3 separate regions of the Homo sapiens genome follow, and all the other regions are linked to region 3. Evidence: fine-mapped expression QTL. A gene starts in region 3. Each other region holds a variant in brackets. All regions are shown on one strand. Distances are between the middles of the regions.

The links.
Region 1: its variant is fine-mapped to the expression of IPO9 in blood mononuclear cells (TOPMed, PIP 0.96).
Region 2: its variant is fine-mapped to the expression of IPO9 in whole blood (TOPMed, PIP above 0.99).

The regions. Positions count from the first base shown.
Region 1 is chr1:201,901,537-201,904,298 of GRCh38, forward strand. All of the region lies in intron 1 of LMOD1 (leiomodin 1), which reads right to left. Among named protein-coding and RNA genes, the nearest start is that of SHISA4, 14 kb to the left of the region's middle. The variant A/C (reference allele first, on the strand shown) is at 1,169.
Region 2 is chr1:201,869,063-201,871,824 of GRCh38, forward strand. It overlaps IPO9 (importin 9), which reads left to right. Exons shown (of 24, transcript NM_018085.5): 17 at 528-656; 18 at 1,521-1,796; 19 at 2,099-2,265. Among named protein-coding and RNA genes, the nearest start is that of MIR6739, 7.1 kb to the left of the region's middle. The variant G/A (reference allele first, on the strand shown) is at 1,628.
Region 3 is chr1:201,827,952-201,830,713 of GRCh38, forward strand. It overlaps IPO9 (importin 9), which reads left to right and starts at 1,206. Exons shown (of 24, transcript NM_018085.5): 1 at 1,206-1,421. The coding sequence starts at 1,259. IPO9-AS1 (IPO9 antisense RNA 1) reads right to left here and starts at 1,608. Exons shown (of 3, transcript NR_046696.1): 1 at 1,000-1,608. RefSeq lists enhancers at 1-319, 320-833, 990-1,284, 1,296-1,505 and a silencer at 1,006-1,245.

The DNA of each region.
Region 1 (2,762 bases), 74 kb after region 3:
TATATATATATATATACATATATATATGTATATATATATATATATATACATATATATATGTATATATATATATACACATATATATGTGTGTGTGTATATATATATATATATACATATATATGTGTATATATATATATACACATATATATATGTGTATATATATATATATGTGAAAACATCAGTTATCTTGCTCACTGAGTTTTTGGCATCCGCTTATATTCTGTGCCCAAGGTGAGTGCCTCACATCCCTTCACCTTAGTCCTGGCCCCTGCTTTTAAGGAGTAGGCCAATAGTTCTGAGATACAGAAATTTTATAAGGCAATACATTTCCAAAGGAAAAAAAGGTAGAGGGATCAACATATGCTAACATTTTATTTTACCAATTAAGGATATTTGTAAATTATTATCATTATTATTGTTATTATTATTATTTTTTTTTTTTAGAGATGGGGGTCTTGTTATGTTGCCCAGGCTGGACTCAAAATCCTATCCTCAAGCAGTCCTCCCACCTCAGCCTCCCAAAGTGCTGAGATCACAGGTGTGAGCTGCCATGCCCATCCGATATTTTAAAATTCTATCTACCATCATCATCTCATTAAAATAAGAAGGAGCTAATTTTAAAGAAGGTAGGCATAACAGAGTAAAGAATATACCTTAACAGCAAATATGTGTATTTTTTTAAATTCACAGTATTGTCCTTATTTTTAGTAAAAACTTAGCTAAGGACAAGCATCTCTCTGTGGAGAGCCCTGGAATTCATTGGGTCAGCTGATCTCTGGAAGACTCTGCCAGATTCTAGATCTTGGATTCTATGACTCAATTTTGACCCCCGAGACACTGAGAAGTTTGTGAGAGAGGCCATGGGACCAAGTCAGTTGAGCTGTGATGGGGGCTTGAGGTTTTTTTTGGTTTGTTTGTTTGTTTGTTTTTGACAGAATCTTGCTCTGTCACCCAGGGTGGAGTGTGATGGCGCAATCTTGACTCATGGCAACCTCTGCCTCCCGGGTTCAAGTGATTCTCCTGCCTCAGCCTCCTGAGTAGCTGGGATTACAGGTGCACACTACCATGCCCAGCTAATTTTTGTATTTTTAGTAGAGACAGGGTTTCACCATGTTGGTCAGGCTGGTCTCGAACTCCTGACCTCATGATCCACCCACCTCGGCCTCCC[A/C]AAGTGCTGGGATTACAGGCGTGAGCCGCCGCGCCAGGCTGGGGGCTTGAGTTTTATACACAGCATAAGCCACCCACACCTCCATGGATCCCTGTTTCTTCCTCCGTAAGGTTGCACCGAGCCTGAGCCCTGTTTTGAGAGCACTTGCTTCTCGTCTTCATCAGAGAAGCAGAGGAAGTGGCAGAGTTAGACATTAGACATAGAGTAGACATTAGACTTAACTGTCCAACTGTGACCCCAGAGCAACTGGGACTTAAAGGGAGGCTGTGATGTCCTCCCCTAAAGGTTTTTCAAGAGGAAGAGACTATGGTTTGAATATTTAAAAAGTTTTCTTTCAAGAGTGCCAGGTTGGGGTGTGGGGAGAGGGCAGGGAAGAAAGGAAAGCAGCTCTCTGTCGCACTCTCGGGCCCAAGTAGCATTTCTTCAACCTCCGCTCTTCGCCGAGGGAATGGAAAGAAAAGTGAGTCCTATGGAAACGGTTTGTACCTGCACCACAAACACATGCCATTGGGGACCAGCCCCTGGGTTTTTTTAGCAGCGAGAGTCCTTGGCTCCTCTGCTAGAATCACAATAAGCAGCCAAGGGGCACAGGGCCTAGTGAGACAGGGCCTTGGAATGTATCTGTTCTAGCCTCCTGCCCTGCAGGCCCCAAGGTCCAGCTGCACTGGAGGCCCCACTGGGGCTATGGTGATGGAGCAAGGGGCAGAGAGCTCCCCCTCCCACTCACTCAGGCCCCCAGGGAACTGGGTTTGACCCTCAGATCAACTGGGTTTGACCCTGGAGCAGAAGTGATGGTGACCTTACTGAACCTTGATTTGAAAGGGACAGAAGGAGAGGAGTATGCAAATAGAATGGAAACAAGGAAACCCAATGGATCAGCCCTTTTAGGATCTGCCCATAGTTTGACCAGGAAATTCCCTCTCCTATTCCCTGATCCCATCAAGTTGAGAGCAGTTCCATCACTGATTCTGTCCACTTTTGGAGCTTGGAGGTGAGAGCTGGAGGGACCAGCCTCTCTAGGCCCATGGTCTAGAGATTAGGCCTCCAGGGCAAAGACTCCTGCCCTCCCCTCTTCCTTCCTTTCCCAAAATGTGCACATTTCAGGAGTTCTCAGAGCCCACTGTGCACTGCATAGCTTCCCTTTCCAGAGTTCCCACGCCACTTGTAGGCTTCACTCAGAGAGAAACTGGGGATCCAGAGAGATGATGAGTTAACTGACTTCACCTAGCAAGTTCGGGAAAAGCTGGATTTCAGACCTGACTGTCTCACTAACAGCCACCAAGTCAATGTAACCATCTCTAACCTTCCCCATCAGGGGCCAAAGCAGCTCCTCTCGGCCCACCCAGCATCCCTGGAGTACTCAAGTGCCCAGCTGCCCACAGAGCCTCACCCACCAGCCTCCTCTTTTCACGCAGCCCCCTTCAGAGCTAGGACTCCCATTCAGACCCTTCCCTCTCACCCCTAGCCAGGACTCAATTTAACCTTCTTTCTTTCTTTCCTTTTCTTTTCTTCTTTTTTTCTTTGAGATGGAATTTCACTGTTGTTGCCCAGGCTGGAGTGCAATGCCGCAATCTCGGCTCACTGCAACCTCTGC
Region 2 (2,762 bases), 41 kb after region 3:
CAATGTGGTGAAACCCTATCTCTACTAAAAATACAAAAATTAGCCGGGCATGGTGGCAGGCATCTGCAGTACCAGCTACTCAAGAGGCTGAGGCAGGAGAATCACTTGAACCCAGGAGGCAGAGGTTGCAGTGAGTGGAGATCGTGCCACTGCACTCCAGCCTGGGTGACAGAGCGAGACTGCCTCAAAAAGAAAGAAAGAAAGAAAATGGCTCTTCTTGTTCCAGAGGTACCCTCAGTGAATTGAACAGAGTGCCACCTTTACACAGTGCCACTAAGTATGTCACCTGGTTATCCAATCCACTACCATGTACTACTGCCCACCCCTATGGCTAATCAATTAGTAAGCTATTATGAGAAGGCTGAGAGTACTACCCATTTAATTATTCCTTTTATTTTGGAAACTTGCCTTTCATTAATAAGCTTTCTCTGGGTTGCTATGTAATACCCATCCAGTAAGGATCTTGGTTGTTGGGCAACCCCCACCCCAGAGGCAATTCTGACTTTTCTTTTTCTTCTCTCTTTCAGACAGCCATTGATATCCTGACAACAGTAGTACGAAATACAAAGCCTCCCCTTTCCCAGCTTCTCATCTGCCAAGCTTTCCCTGCTGTGGCACAGTGTACCCTTCACACAGATGACAATGCCACCATGCAGGTATCTGAGACATGGAGAGTAGAAGAGGGAAGATAGCTCCCCAGCCATGGGCTTATACTATGCTGAGAAATCTGACATGGTTTTATGCTTTTGAAATACGGAATTCTCAACTCCATATTTACTTAGCAGATTCAGGAAGGGTTCAGTCTGCAAAAGCCAAGCATTTCTGGTGCTTTGGAGCATGTTACAGTTTTTAAAAATATGGATACCAAGCACCCTGCCCATCTGTATTGGGTATTGCTACTGTGAAAGAGGTTACAGACATCTAGACTTGGGGCCATAAGAAAGTCTTTCTGCATATTTCTTCTAGTAATAAAGTCAGCAGAGTGATGGGCCTCTAGAGAGGGGAGACATGCCTGAATATTTTTTCTCTTTTTGTTTCTTGGGTGAATTGGTTACCTTTTCAGGTGTCTGCTACTGTGATTGATTAGAAAGGTTATAGGAACTTGCCAGTGAATATTGATCAGCTTGGAAATCCCTAGGCAACTAGTGGTTTGTGTAAGACCTATATAAAGACCTACAGTATCCCCAGTTATTCCAAGATTGTAAGCATATTTTTTTAGTACCAGAGGTAGACCTTTATGATTAAAATTCATTTTGCTTGGCCATTGTCCCTTGTGATTAAAAAAATATATATACACATTTGTGAGATAGCTGATTAGGTAAAGGGGGAATTATGTAATGCACGTCTATGTCTGTAACAGTAAATGTCTTAACTCCAGTGGTATGAGCCCACCACAAACATTATAGACTCACCGCTTTTATGAGGCATAGGCCTCTGGGAACATTTGTTTATACAGACTGAGGGCCTTCTGGCATCTGTCCCTCGATTACTAATCTTGCTTGCCACCCCTGTCTCCCCAGAATGGCGGAGAGTGCTTGCGGGCCTATGTGTCAGTGACCCTGGAACAAGTAGCCCAGTGGCATGATGAGCAGGGCCACAATGGACTGTGGTATGTGATGCAAGTGGT[G/A]AGCCAGCTCCTGGACCCCCGCACCTCAGAGTTCACTGCGGCCTTTGTGGGCCGCCTTGTTTCCACCCTCATCTCCAAGGCAGGGCGGGAACTCGGGGAGAATCTAGACCAGATTCTTCGTGCCATCCTCAGTAAGATGCAGCAGGCAGAGACGCTCAGTGTCATGCAGGTAAGAGAGCAGTGGGGAGTGGGCTTCCTACTCCCTGGCTGATAGAAATGAAAATTCGTATTTTGGTCCTGAGTTATTTTATTTTACCCTCTTACTAGCCTTGTAGGACAGTTAAGTAAAATGGGACCTGTCTGATCTGTTTGGCCTAAGAAACATGGACAAGGAAATCTCCCATGTTTTCTTGTCCTGTGGATAATACCCTCAGTGTAGACTGTATTTCTTATCTGACTGGCCAGTTCCCTCTCATCTCCTATGTCTCTGAAATTGATTTCCCTGAAGCAAATGTCCTTATTTTCTCCTAGTCCCTGATCATGGTGTTCGCTCATCTGGTGCACACTCAGCTAGAACCTCTCTTGGAGTTCCTGTGTAGCCTCCCAGGACCTACTGGCAAACCTGCTCTAGAGTTTGTGATGGCTGAGTGGACAAGCCGACAGCACCTGTTCTATGGACAGTATGAAGGCAAAGTCAGGTAGAACCTCATCTTTCTTTTCTGGGCATTCTGCCACCACTCATATTTCTTTTTTTTTTTTTTTTTTTTTTTTTTTTTTGAGACAGTCTCGCTCTGTCGCCCAGGCTGGAGTGCAGTGGCACAATCTTGGCTCACTGCAACCTCCACCTCCTAGGTTCAAGCAATTCTCCTGCTCCTGCCTCAGCCGTCCGAATATTACACACATGCACCACCATACCCAGTGAATTCTTTGTGTGTGTGTTTTTAGTAGAGAGAGGGTTTCACCATGTTGGCCAGGCTGGTCTTGAACTCCTGACCTCAAGTGATCCACCCACTTCGGCCTCCCACAGTGCTGGGATTACAGGTGTGAGCCACTGCTCCTGACACATATTTCTTTTTTTTCCTGATTTGCTCCATTGATTTTTGTTTGACATTTCAAATGGCTCTCTGTATTCCCTTTTCCCTGTCTTTCTTTATTGCTAACGCACATATGTGAATAGCTGCCATCTTGAAATCCC
Region 3 (2,762 bases):
CTATTCATAGGTGTGATGACAGCACACTACAGCCTGGAACTCCTGGGCTCAAGTGATCCTCCTGCCTTGGCTTACATCTTGCTTTTTCTTCTTTTTCTGAGACAAGATGTCACTCTGTCGCCCAGGCTGGAGTGCAATGGCGCAATCACTGCTCACTGCAGCCTCCTCCTCCTGGGCTCAAGTGATCTTCCCACCTCCACCTCCCGAACAGCCGGGACTACAGGGCGTACGCCACCACGCCTGGGCAATTTTTGTATTTTTTTGTAGAGACGAAGTCTCGCTATGTTGCCCAGGCTGTTCTCGAAATCCTGGGCTCAAGCGATCCTCCTGCCTCGGCCTCCCAAAGTGCTAGGATTAGAGGCGTGAGCCACTGCGCCTCGCCACACCCTGCATTTTTAACACCTCACTGGAGCGCTCATCCTCTCCACCTGCTCCGCTATTCAGGAGCGGCTCTGCACCGTAGGCCATTTCCCACGACCAGCTGCTGACAACCATATCATCAAACTGCTCTTGTTCTCGCACCCCTTAAATGTCCAGCCATAATTTCTCAGGGAAAAAAATTTATACATTTTCAACAAATAGGATTCATTCTCAAATAGTCACATACAACACTCACTCTGGAAGAAACTCCCTTTCACATGCCGGTGTCTCCCCTGCCCAGCCACTTCCCAGCTTTGAGGTTGGGCTCATCTAGGCTGGAAAACCAAGGGACTGGGCCGTGGTTTTCCCACTTCCACTTCCCAGTTTGCTTTAGTTTATTTTCCCCCCTCTTTGGATTCCTGAGGCTAAGATGAAGAGAGTCACTTGAGCCAACTTTTTTTCAGTGTTTGGGGGGAAAAGAATGTGGTTTAAAATAGGGGCTATTTGTGACCCAGACCTCTCTCCTTAAAGCCCTCTACATCTATTCCCATCCCGCCTCCTCTCTCCTAACACCTGAAAGATGCATGAATATAAAGTCATATATCATGAACTTTATTCCAAATGAGATTGCTAACTTACTGTGCAACTTTAGGAAAGCCCCTTAACCTGTCTGGGGCTCAGTTTTCACACAAATCCAGAGATCCTTGCAGAGAAAGGTGCAGTTCTCGTTCAGGCAGCAGGAGGCGCTGTCTCTGGAGGCTTAGATTCATTCCCCGCCCTCCGCCCGCTCCCGCCCGCCTCTGGTGCGCAGGCGCGGCTTCGCGGATTGGCCGCGCGCGGGGGCCGTCATTCGGTGGCGGGTCCCGGCCGCGGGGCTGGCGGGCTGAGGGGAGAAAAGATGGCGGCGGCGGCGGCAGCTGGTGCGGCCTCCGGGCTGCCGGGTCCAGTGGCACAAGGATTAAAGGAAGCGTTAGTGGATACGCTCACCGGGATCCTATCCCCAGTACAGGAGGTGCGGGCGGCTGCTGAAGAACAGATTAAGGTGCTGGAGGTGACGGAGGGTGAGTGAGGCGGGACCGTCACGAGGATGGCTCAGCCGCACAATCCGCTGACCGCAGCTCCGTACCGGCTGGGGACATGGGGAGCCTGAGCCAGTTGGAGATGTGGGCGCCGAGAAGTGGAGCAGGAAGCGAGAGATTGATGTCGCTGGTGGTTGTGAAAGTCCGAGAGAGGAGAGGCGCGCCTGAAGGATAGGGTCGGGGGAGGTGGAGCCTGGGAGTGGGGGAGGGAGGGTGGAGACTTGAAAAGATAGATGGAGCCTAGAATCTGCAGGGGACGGAGATGGAGCTAGACTTGGTGCTGTTGGAGGAAGTAGCGCGGTCGGGGAAATATTTTTTGAGTCCAGGACCAAAGTCTTTCGCTGTTCTCTTCACCAGCTGGATTGTACTGGGATAAGAGTAGGGGGAGCTATTAGTAGGAGTGGTGAAGGGTAGGGCCTCGAAAAGGCGGCTATCAAAGCTTAATAGATGTCATCAAACAAGTTTCTGCCTCTGAGTTATAAACCTAGCTAGTTGTTTGTACTCTTCGTGTTTTCCCAGAAATTAAATGCATATGCGATTGCTTCACTGTCCTGACCATACTTAACGTTTATTTTAAAAATAATTTGCCCTTATTAAATACCTTTGTGCATTTCTGTTTGGAGGAACTGATCATCCTTTGTTTTTGATTCTTTGTCTCCGTCCTCTATTGTGTGCTTTAAAGTGATGGAGAAGAAAATAAACCATTGGTTCGAGATTTTCTATCAATTTCCTGCCGCGTGAGCCTTTCACCGGGTCCAGTGTAGCTACCACAAAGAACAATTTAATCCAGAAACAGGAGGAGAAATCTTCTTGGTCTTTGTGTAAGAAATATATCTGGTCAGAGCTTCACTGGAACTCCAAATCCTCAGAATCTCCCAACTCAGGAATATTTCCACCACCACTTAAATACTTCATCAGAGATATGGGAAATTGTCCCATCACACACCCATCATATTCAAAACCTTCAGTTAGCTCTCCTACTGGACGTATTTCTATTGAAAAGAATTTAGAACAAATCTCTCTTAAATTTAGTTTACATTCTTTCACAGTATGAAAGAGCTGTTGAAAACAAATTTTCTTCTGTTGGAAATATGTTAAGATTTGGGATCTAACAGGCTAAGGACCATTTTGAAGGCCCACTTGTAATTGTCATTGTTTTATAAAATATCAGATCTATACAGGAGAAACCACTGGTTAGGAGAAAGCTGTTTGAGAACCATGTATAAACTAATCTAAAGGAATTTTTAGCGGCTTCTAAATAAAATTCGTTTATGCACATTAATGTCTGTCCCCCTTGAGTATGAGGAAGGAAGAGTGACAAAG